Regions from separate parts of the Homo sapiens genome. Here region 2 is linked to region 1. Evidence: fine-mapped QTL for protein levels in blood plasma. A gene starts in region 1. The other region holds a variant in brackets. All regions are shown on one strand. Distances are from middle to middle.

Region 1 (5,380 bases):
AAGTTATTATTAATGTATATTCAAGAAGCTAGAGAGAAGAGTGGACACGTTTAGATACGGAAGATATAAAAAAGATTCATTGCTTTATATTGTCCTGTAACTTAAAAAAAAGATTCAAGTTGAAACTCTAGAGATGAAAGCTACCAGGTATAAGGTGCAAAATACACTGGATAGGATTGGCAGTAATCAGATATTACAGAAGAAAACATTAGTGAACTCACAGACATAGCAATAGAGACTATCCAAAATAAAATATGAAGGAAAAAATGAGCAAAACAGAAGCAAAAACAGATCACCAACAAACTGTGGGCCAATATACACTCACCGTCTGACTCAGCCATTCTGGTTTTAAGTATTTTCCAAGAGAATTAAAGGCTTTATGTCCATACAAAGACTTGCATATGAATGTCAAGGCAGCTTTATTCGTAAAAGTTTCAAGTGAAAATAACCAAAAATTCATGAGCAGTAGAATTGATTAAAAATTTTGAAGTATATCATATAATGAAATACTGCCCAGCAATAAAAAAGAATAAACTATTGCTACATTTAACAATGTGAGTGGATTCAAAAATAATGATGCTAAGTGAAAGAAGTCAGACAAAGAGTACCTACCGTGGAACTATATTTATGTGCAATTCTAGAAAACGCAAACAAATCTCTAGTGATAGCAGATCAATGGAGGAGGGGGTGAGGAAGAGGCAAAAGGAAGGAATTACAAAGGTACATGTGGAAATTTGGGGAAGTGATGTATAATCTTCATTTTCTTGGTTTCAGTGATGGCTTCCTGAGCATATAACACACATGCATATGTGTAAGAATATATCCAATTGAATATTTTACACATTTGTAGCTTTGTATATATTCAGCAGTATCTATTCATTCCTTCTGCTTCTTTACCTTAGGTTTAGTCATGAAACCACTGGGTTTCATGTGGTCCAGGTTCTATCTGAATCAAGCTATGAACCTGCTATCAGTAAGACCTCCTAATTGCAAACCACATGGACCTTTACCGGTTATTTGACTTCTCTCGGTCATTACCTTCTCTAGTCTCCACTGATTCACCTCCTTTTGAATCTCAACAAGCTCAACAGTATCTCAATGTTATCTTAACAAAGCTGTTAGAAATAAACAACTTGACTTTGAAACAAAGGAGAGAAATGGCTCAGCAGCTAGGAGAAGATGCAGGGTTGAGTTGCCAACAGTTGGTTTTGTTTGTATTTTGGCCAGGGGATGTGGCTTGGACTGGAGAGAAAGGAGATAAGGATGTAAGCACATGTAGGGCATATCACCCCCTATTTTTTATTCTCTGAATCCTTAACCCTCAGAATAAGTTCTTATTCTTGAGAATCAATGACATTATCTTAAGCTAAATTAATCAAGCCTCCACAGTGTTCTTCTCTCAATAGTGGTGTGGGCCTTCCTAGAAGTAATTTTTCCCAAATTCAGTGATACATTTTAAGTTCAGATTTTAATTGATATGAATCTGTGATACACTCTAAAATAAGATTATTTTATTGAAAAGTGGACTGTAACTTTCCCTTTATCTAGGAAGAGCTCTAAGTTAGAAGATGTTTTGCACTTTTACCGAAGGCTGTGTCTTGTAAGCACCCCCGAGCAACTCTGAGAGCCTTGATTTTTGTGTCCTCAGCATATGTTTGTGTAATACAGAAAGAGAAGCAGTTGCCAAGTGAAAGGGATGTTGGTCTCCAAAATTATAGTTTGATCCCACAAACACACAAACACATACATGCAAAGGATTGTTTGCTTCACGGTTTTTGATATTTAATTCAATGCTGTTGGAACAGCACAAAAACTAAGTGTCAGTTTAACAGAATCACTTGTCCTTTTAGCATTAAAATAACATGGAACTTAATGCTTTAATTTCCCAACATGCCTTTTTATTTAGAAAGATTCAGACTTATATTTCATTTAGAAATAAAATGCCATTTTATTTAGAAAGATACAGGAGCATTCATTCACGGAACTTTCAGATCTCAGTCCACTGCATAAAATCTTGATCCTGTAATAATAGTTTCTGTATCTTGCATATTCATTCAACAGGTTTAACGCGATGAGCAAATTAATGTTCATCGTTTTTAACATGTTTCATCTTAATCAGAACCCACATTCTCAACGTTAATTGAACGTACATAGGACTATACAAGGGTTAGTAAATAAGACAGAAACTGTTGTTCATTTAACCACCGTCACTTTGGACCAAAAAAGAAAAAATATATATTTTTAAAATTGAGCTTAAAAGAGTCTCTAGAAGCTGGAAGCGTGGCTCTTTTTCAGCAAACTGGGGGAATAGGTTTACCGTGTTCCCCCTCTGGGGAATTTTGAGTCGCCACACTCATGTCTCGACCGAGCCTGGCTCGCTGCGTCTGAGCGAGTACTTGAGGAAGGCTGATCTAGAAAAACCAGCTGAGAGAAGGGGCAGAAGCCCCTGAAACCACGGGCGGGGGTGGGGTGGGGAGCGCAGCTTTGGGACCCTCTAGCCGGAGACTTCCGGCAGCTGCCTCCGACTTGTTCTAAGTACAGGAAAAATCTGTGCGCCCAGTTGCCTCACTCCAACAGCGCGCAGTTGTGCCCGGCGAGGATGCCGCGCTAGTCGTGGAGATGCCCCACCACAAAGAGGATTCAGGTGCTTCCTACTCCGGCACCCAGTGGGTTGGTAGTCCTGTTGGCAGGAGACAAGAATCGTCTGGGCTGCTCCTATCTCTGGCAGGACTAGACGGGGCGTGAAGGAAAGAAGGAAAGAAGGAAAGCAGGGATCGGGCACTGCCCGAGGGCAGATACTTGGGCTTTGGTGTTGTCCAGCGCGCTCGGAGTGCGCTGCCTCGCTCACGCGGTCCCAGGCCCCGCTTCTTCAGGCAGTGCCTGGGGCGGGAGGGTTGGGGTGTGGGTGGCTCCCTAAGTCGACACTCGTGCGGCTGCGGTTCCAGCCCCCTCCCCCCGCCACTCAGGGGCGGGAAGTGGCGGGTGGGAGTCACCCAAGCGTGACTGCCCGAGGCCCCTCCTGCCGCGGCGAGGAAGCTCCATAAAAGCCCTGTCGCGACCCGCTCTCTGCACCCCATCCGCTGGCTCTCACCCCTCGGAGACGCTCGCCCGACAGCATAGTACTTGCCGCCCAGCCACGCCCGCGCGCCAGCCACCGTGAGTGCTACGACCCGTCTGTCTAGGGGTGGGAGCGAACGGGGCGCCCGCGAACTTGCTAGAGACGCAGCCTCCCGCTCTGTGGAGCCCTGGGGCCCTGGGATGATCGCGCTCCACTCCCCAGCGGACTATGCCGGCTCCGCGCCCCGACGCGGACCAGCCCTCTTGGCGGCTAAATTCCACTTGTTCCTCTGCTCCCCTCTGATTGTCCACGGCCCTTCTCCCGGGCCCTTCCCGCTGGGCGGTTCTTCTGAGTTACCTTTTAGCAGATATGGAGGGAGAACCCGGGACCGCTATCCCAAGGCAGCTGGCGGTCTCCCTGCGGGTCGCCGCCTTGAGGCCCAGGAAGCGGTGCGCGGTAGGAAGGTTTCCCCGGCAGCGCCATCGAGTGAGGAATCCCTGGAGCTCTAGAGCCCCGCGCCCTGCCACCTCCCTGGATTCTTGGGCTCCAAATCTCTTTGGAGCAATTCTGGCCCAGGGAGCAATTCTCTTTCCCCTTCCCCACCGCAGTCGTCACCCCGAGGTGATCTCTGCTGTCAGCGTTGATCCCCTGAAGCTAGGCAGACCAGAAGTAACAGAGAAGAAACTTTTCTTCCCAGACAAGAGTTTGGGCAAGAAGGGAGAAAAGTGACCCAGCAGGAAGAACTTCCAATTCGGTTTTGAATGCTAAACTGGCGGGGCCCCCACCTTGCACTCTCGCCGCGCGCTTCTTGGTCCCTGAGACTTCGAACGAAGTTGCGCGAAGTTTTCAGGTGGAGCAGAGGGGCAGGTCCCGACCGGACGGCGCCCGGAGCCCGCAAGGTGGTGCTAGCCACTCCTGGGTTCTCTCTGCGGGACTGGGACGAGAGCGGATTGGGGGTCGCGTGTGGTAGCAGGAGGAGGAGCGCGGGGGGCAGAGGAGGGAGGTGCTGCGCGTGGGTGCTCTGAATCCCCAAGCCCGTCCGTTGAGCCTTCTGTGCCTGCAGATGCTAGGTAACAAGCGACTGGGGCTGTCCGGACTGACCCTCGCCCTGTCCCTGCTCGTGTGCCTGGGTGCGCTGGCCGAGGCGTACCCCTCCAAGCCGGACAACCCGGGCGAGGACGCACCAGCGGAGGACATGGCCAGATACTACTCGGCGCTGCGACACTACATCAACCTCATCACCAGGCAGAGGTGGGTGGGACCGCGGGACCGATTCCGGGAGCGCCAGTGCCTGCACACCAGGAGATCCTGGGGATGTTAGGGAAAGGGATTGTTTCTTTTCCTTCGCTCTATCCCAGGGCAGGACAGTATCAGGCACTTAGTCAGCTCTAGGTAAATGTTTGTACAGGGCACACTCTACACAAAATGGGTACCTTCCATTTTGTGCAACTACAGTCACAGAGTCGTGATCCCCAGATTCAGGTTCCCCAGGCTGGTAGGCTGGCAATCTCCTCTCACTCACCTCTTATGGTTTGTTGTGGTTCTTACGGCAGTGGGGCCCGGTCCAGAAATCTCGAAAGTACCCAGTGAAAGGGGCAAGAATGCGCCAGAGAAATGCTGTAGGGGGAAACGCTAGCAAGGTGTCTAGGAGAAACAGAACGACCACCAAAGAAAACCAAACCAAGGAGTAAACTGCAGGGTTGCCACAGACATTGTCAGACTTTCCGGCCTGCCCAGGGCTAATTGAATGACAGTATTTAGAAAAAGACAAATAGAGCTATTTTCTTTTCTTCTTCACTGTGTTTTTTTTGCAGTCTCACTCCCATATTTGAAAATTCTAGTCCCAATAATTAGAGATTTAGCCTGAAAACAGTTTATCTAAAATGCAGAGGTCTCCCTATTTTATAGCTGGTGAATTCTGAAAAGAAAGTGCCCACTTGGTATTTCATTAAGAAGAAACTTACGTTGGTCCAGTAACTTTAGGATGAATTCAGGGATTACATGGAATCTGAGAAATTGTAAACTTTATTCTGAACATTCCGAAAGTCAAAATGAAATGCCATATTTTCACTCTCAACATTGACAATTAAGGGAAAAATCAAATCCAAACTATTTTACAAATTACATAGGATTTAAATTTTGTTTTCAAAATTGGTTGATCTTAGTTCTAAATCATTTAATATCTTATTTTAATTACTGAGATTAAATGATTTTAGTCATTTGACCGTATCTAAAGGATAAGCCCTTTAGAAGCATTAATGTTAGTTAACATGTTTAAATTATATGTTTAAAGTATTGTGGGGTTTATATATTTATTTATTT
Region 2 (5,380 bases), 14 kb before region 1:
AGAGCAAGGATTGGCAAATCTTTTTCATAAAGTGTCAAATGTTGTAAATACTTTAGATTTGTAAGCTACCACCCTCTCCAAACATCTTTCCCCACAACATAAACTGCTCTAGAATATATAGTATTAAATAAGAAATGTTGTCTACTATTCTATTTAGTGGTTATACATAGTTCCACCCAAAATATAGTATTTTCTCATCATTCACTGTTATACTGAAAACTTTATGTAGTGTGTATTTACCACCATTTTAAAGTCACAACTACTCAGTTATGCCGTTGTGGTGCAAAAGCAACCATAACAAATGAGTGTGGCTGTGTTCCAATAAAACTTTATTTGCAAAAACAGGTGAGAGACTAGATTTGGTCCTTAGCCCTATTTCACAGACCTCTGCTGTAGAGTGTGGAAGGCCTTTTAAATAAACTAAGAGCTAAAATTCAGAAGCACACAAGAAAAGATTGATACATTCAACTTTAAATTTAAAACTTCTGTAAGGCAAAAACAACACATTAAAGTCAAAAGATGAGTGACAAACCACAAATTAGTTTTTGCAACTCATTTCACAAAAGAAGAAACTCTCAAATATATAAAATCTTCTAGAAGCTCTCACCTTCAGTGCCACTTTTTCTTTCTTCCTGATCATTCCATCCAGCAGACCAATATGCTCCCTTTTTCCCCATCTTAAAAGACATTTCTCTTGATGTCATTTCCCTCACCAGTTACTGCCCCTTTTACTACTTTCCTTTGCAGTGAAACTCCCTGAATTGTCTCCAATATCTTCTTTTTCTCTCTTAAATCCTATCTAGTGTCTTTCCTTCTGCCACTTCTACTGAAACTGCTTTTTGTCAAGACTCCCACATTGCTCAAGCCGGTGGTCAATTTTAGCCAGTGGTCAATTTGACTTTACTTTTCAGCAGTTGATGCAGAAGTCCATTTCCTCTTTCTTGAAAAAACATTTGCACATGACATCTAGAATACCAAATCTCAAACTCTTTTGGTTTTCCTCTACCTCTCTGGTCCCTCATTCTCAGGCTACTTTGCTCTTCCTTTCTCACCTTCTGGCCTCTCAATGTCAGCTCACTGCAAGACTTGATGTGGACACCTTCTTGCCTCTTTCTCCACTCAATTCCTTGGTCATCTTATCTATTGTCATATCTTTAAATGTCATCAAAAGGCAAACAACTCCTGAATTTATTTATCAAGGCCTGATCTCACTCCTTAACTCCAGATTTGGAGATACAACTGACATCTCAGGGTCTAATAGACATCCAAATCTTGACATATCTTCAACTGAGCTCCCAATGCCAACCCCAAACCTACTCCCTGTTACTGTTGGGGGCAACCCCATACTTTCAGTTACTCTGGCCAAAAAATCTGCAGTCATCCTTGGCTGTCTTCCTTCTTTCTCACAGATTATTTGCTCTATTTTTAACATATATCTGGAATCCAACCATTTTTCACCCCTTCCCTGCTACCACTCTGCTCATGCCCTCCTTAGAGTCATCATGTCAGGTTTTCTGTGGTCTCGGATGCTCTGCCCCCGTGATTTGCGTGGCTCACTCCTTCACCTTCTTCAAGTCTTTGTGACTTTCTGCATAGCACTCATCACTGTCTCACAAACCAAGTCATTTACTTGTAAAATTGTGTCTCTTATTCATTTTCTGTTTAAACTGTAAGCCTTGTATGTATTTTGTTTTTAAATATATCCCAAATGCTTGGAACAGTTCCTGGCCACAGTAAGCTCTCAAAATATTTATTAAAAGAATGAATAAAATTGATTTTAAAAAGATCAACAACCCAGAAAAAAGGTCAAAGAATATTTTAGATATTCTTATATAATATCTAATATTATATATAATAGAAAATTTTTAAGGAAAGGTAAAAAATGGCTTGTAAATACATGAAAAGATGCTTAATCTCATTTATAATAAAAGAAATGTAATTTAAGATAATTCAAAATACCTCTTCCCCTTCCCCCTTTTTTAATTGTCACATTATAAGAATCCAAAATGTGACTATATGTGGTTCAGGCTGTGGGAAAATGACATCTTTTAGATTGTTAGTGAGAGTGGGACTTTTTAAATCCCCTATGTACAGCAATTTGGCAACTATGTATAAG[A/T]TTTACAAATGTCTGTTGAACCCACAATCCCACTTTGTTTTTTTTCTTTCCCACTCACCTGGGCTGGAGTGAAAAGGAGTGAAGACGGCTCACTGCAAGCTCAACCTCTCAGACTGAAGCGATCCTCCCACTTCAGCCCCCCAACTAGCTAAGCCTACAGGCTCGTGCCACCACACCCAGCTAGCTTTTTTGTATTTTTAGTAGAGGCAGGGTTTTGCCATGTTCGCTAGCTCAGATTGGTCTTGAACTCCTGAGCTCAAGTGATCTGCCTGCCTCAGCCTCTCAAAGTGCCTGGGATTACAGGTGTGAGCCATGGTGTCCAGCCTCACAATCCCACGTTTGAGAAACTTTCCTACAAATATACATATAAAAAATGACAAATTTATAAAGTTATTAGTTTCGTTACGTTTTAATAACAAAAGACTGGAAACAAAGTGCACATTATAGAGGACTGGTAAAAAAATTACAATACATCTATACAATGAAATTTTTTCTGTCGAAAATTGTTTTTAACAAAGATTGAAGATGGCTTTTAGTTCTAAAATGGAAAGATGTCCAAGAGAGAATATTAAATAATAAAATCAAGATGCCAAGCAGTGTGTATAGCATGTTGCATTTGTTTATAAGAAAAGGAGAAATATAAGAACATATATTAATTTTTGCTTTTATTTGCATAAAGAAAGTTGGGAAACATATGCAAAAAGTTAATAAAAATGATTACCCCAGTGGGAGGTAGGAAAATGAGATAAATGTTGACAGGGATAGGAGCAAGACTTTCAAGTTGCATCTTTAAAAAAAAATTACGGCCGGGTGCGGTGGCTCACGCCTGTAATCCCAGCACTTTGGGAGGCTGAGGCGGGCGGATCACGAGGTCAGTAGATCGAGACCATCCTGGCTAACATGGTGAAACCCCATCTCTACTAAAAATACAAAAAATTAGCCGGGCATGGTGGCAGGCGCCTGTAGTCCCAGCTACTCGGGAAACTGAGGCAGGAGAATGGTGTGAACCCAGGAGGCGGAGCTTGCAGTGAACCGAGATGGCGCCACGGTGCCACTGCACTCCAGCCTGGGCGAAAGAGCTAGACTCTGTCTCAAAAAAAAAAAAAAAAATTCAAATGATAATTCAAAAAATTAATCAAAAGAAATTATGTGTATGCATTAACAAATTTTAAAATAATTTTTTAAACTACATAATATAAATGTACATAGCATAAATTCTCTAAGAGAAAATAATCCTCAGATTATTTCTTAAAATTAAACTATTAGATTATCATCCTTTATCATTCTTAAATTTAGTTTAATTTTTATATAATGGATAACGTGGTCTTCTAGGTTACTAGAAAATATAAATGTTGTGTCCTTATCATCCCTTGCTTCTCTAACATCTAAACTAATTGTGCCATTTCTCTGTCCTATTTTCATAATTTCAGTTCCACTAAGAAAGTTCCCATCTCAAGAGGATGCTGTTTGATTTCTTGTTATTCACCATCCGTGTGATCCATGGGGGGAAGAAAAGGTATTAAAGAAGAGAAGCATATTAATGTTATTACTCCTTTCTAACTTTACAGAGTGGCTACTCTTTTAAATTCTTTTGAGACAAACACCTGAAAGAAAATGTTGATATGTGAGATAAGCAATAAGCAGTGTTTGAATACATGCATATGTTAAAGGACACCATTAAAATTAAAAATAACTCTAGAAAGGAAACAAAGCATGCAAAATTGCCTTATGTGGCTTGCTAGAAGTAAAATAAATGTTGAAAAACTAGAGTTTGTTTCTTAAAAAGCAAGCAGAGCTAAAGGTACGTCTTGCAATCTATAGTTTACTAGTGACAAACCTCGTATATTGATCTCTATGTCTGACTTCTGACTATTGATCAGTTTCCATGGTGCCATGGTGGCGGCAGGAGTGGTGGGTAGTTGTTATTTGTTGGACCCCTAAAACCCTAACAAACTTCAGCTACAAGTTATATATATAATCACACGCCAAGTCTCATGATCATTTAACTCATTTTTATTGAGCACCTACTAAGAGCCAAGTATCTTCCAAGTATACAAGTATGTTATTCTAAGTATGGGGATTTTAATGGTGAGCAAAACGAAACACGTATCCCTGCTCTCAGGGAGCTTACAATTATGAAATGTTAGACACATCAAACTAAAAATAACACTTTGACTATATACCTAAATAGACAGTTAGAGCTATCTTTAAAGATAAAGTTCTTTAAAGGATCTTTAAAGGTAAATTATAAGATATCGTGGGATCATACAATGAGGTGAGTTGGAGAGGAACCTAATCTAGATTGAGGGATCATGGAGAAATGACATATAGAGTAAATGTGAAGGATAAGTGGGAGTTCGCTGAAAGAGAAAATAGAATGATGAAGAGCCCCGGGCAGGAAGTAGTTTGGCATGCTCAGGAGAAAATAGAATGAGGAAGAGCCCCGGGCAGGAAGTAGTTTGGCACGCTCAGGACCCTCAAATTGTCTATCATGTTTACTTACCTATAGTTTATGTAAAATATTTAAATTCTAAATCAACGTTCTGCATACTTTCTATAAAGAGCCAGAAAGTAAATACTTTAGACGTTGTGAGCCATACAGTGTCTGTTGTAACTTCTCAACTTTGTCATTGCAGCAAGAAAGCAGCCATAAGCAATATGTAAATGAATAGGTGTGGCTGCATTCTCACAAAACGTTATTTACAAAAACAGGTGGTAGGGAGGTGGCCCATAGGTTACAGTTTGCCAATCCCTGTTCTATCAGGCCCTTCTAAAACTCAGTTATAAACTTCAGTTGCATAAAGATATTTATTTTGATCAATACATATTTATTGGAAATCTATTGTCTTAATTCATTTGTGTTGCTATAAAAGAATACAGGGTAATTTATAAAGAAAAGAGGTTTATTTGGCTTATGGTTCTGCAGGCTGTGCAAGAAGCATGGCACTAGCACCTGCTTCTGATGAGAGCCTCAGGCTGCTTCTACTCATGGCAGAAGGTGAAGGGGAGCTGGTGTGTGCAGAAATCGTGTGCCGAGAGAGCAAGCAAGAGAGAGAGGAGGGAGGTAGTAGGCTCTTTTAAACAACCAGCTCTCACAGGAACTAATAAAGCAAGAACTCATCCATTACTACAAGGACAACATAAAGCCATTCATAAGGGTGCTACCCCTATGACCCAAACACTTCCCATTAGGACTCACCTCCAACATTGGGGATCAAATTTCAACATAACATTGGAGGGGTCAAAGAAACCAAACTATAGTAT

Alleles and levels. Positions count from the first base shown, and alleles are read on the strand shown. Strength reflects both the effect of a copy and how common the allele is.
As copies of T replace A in region 2, the plasma level of the protein whose gene starts at base 3,071 in region 1 goes down (moderate association).

What was found. PIP is the posterior inclusion probability: the model's chance that the variant is causal. The UK Biobank Pharma Proteomics Project read protein levels with antibody pairs (Olink). The fine-mapping took linkage between variants from a reference panel, not from the people measured, so its PIPs are less certain.
Region 2: its variant is fine-mapped to the plasma level of the NPY protein (UK Biobank, PIP above 0.99).

What each region holds. Positions count from the first base shown.
Region 1 is chr7:24,281,120-24,286,499 of GRCh38, forward strand. It overlaps NPY (neuropeptide Y), which reads left to right and starts at 3,071. Exons shown (of 4, transcript NM_000905.4): 1 at 3,071-3,156; 2 at 4,122-4,309. The coding sequence starts at 4,122. All of the region lies in intron 2 of LOC107986777 (a long non-coding RNA gene), which reads right to left.
Region 2 is chr7:24,267,363-24,272,742 of GRCh38, forward strand. All of the region lies in intron 2 of LOC107986777 (a long non-coding RNA gene), which reads right to left. Among named protein-coding and RNA genes, the nearest start is that of NPY, 14 kb to the right of the region's middle. The variant A/T (reference allele first, on the strand shown) is at 2,117.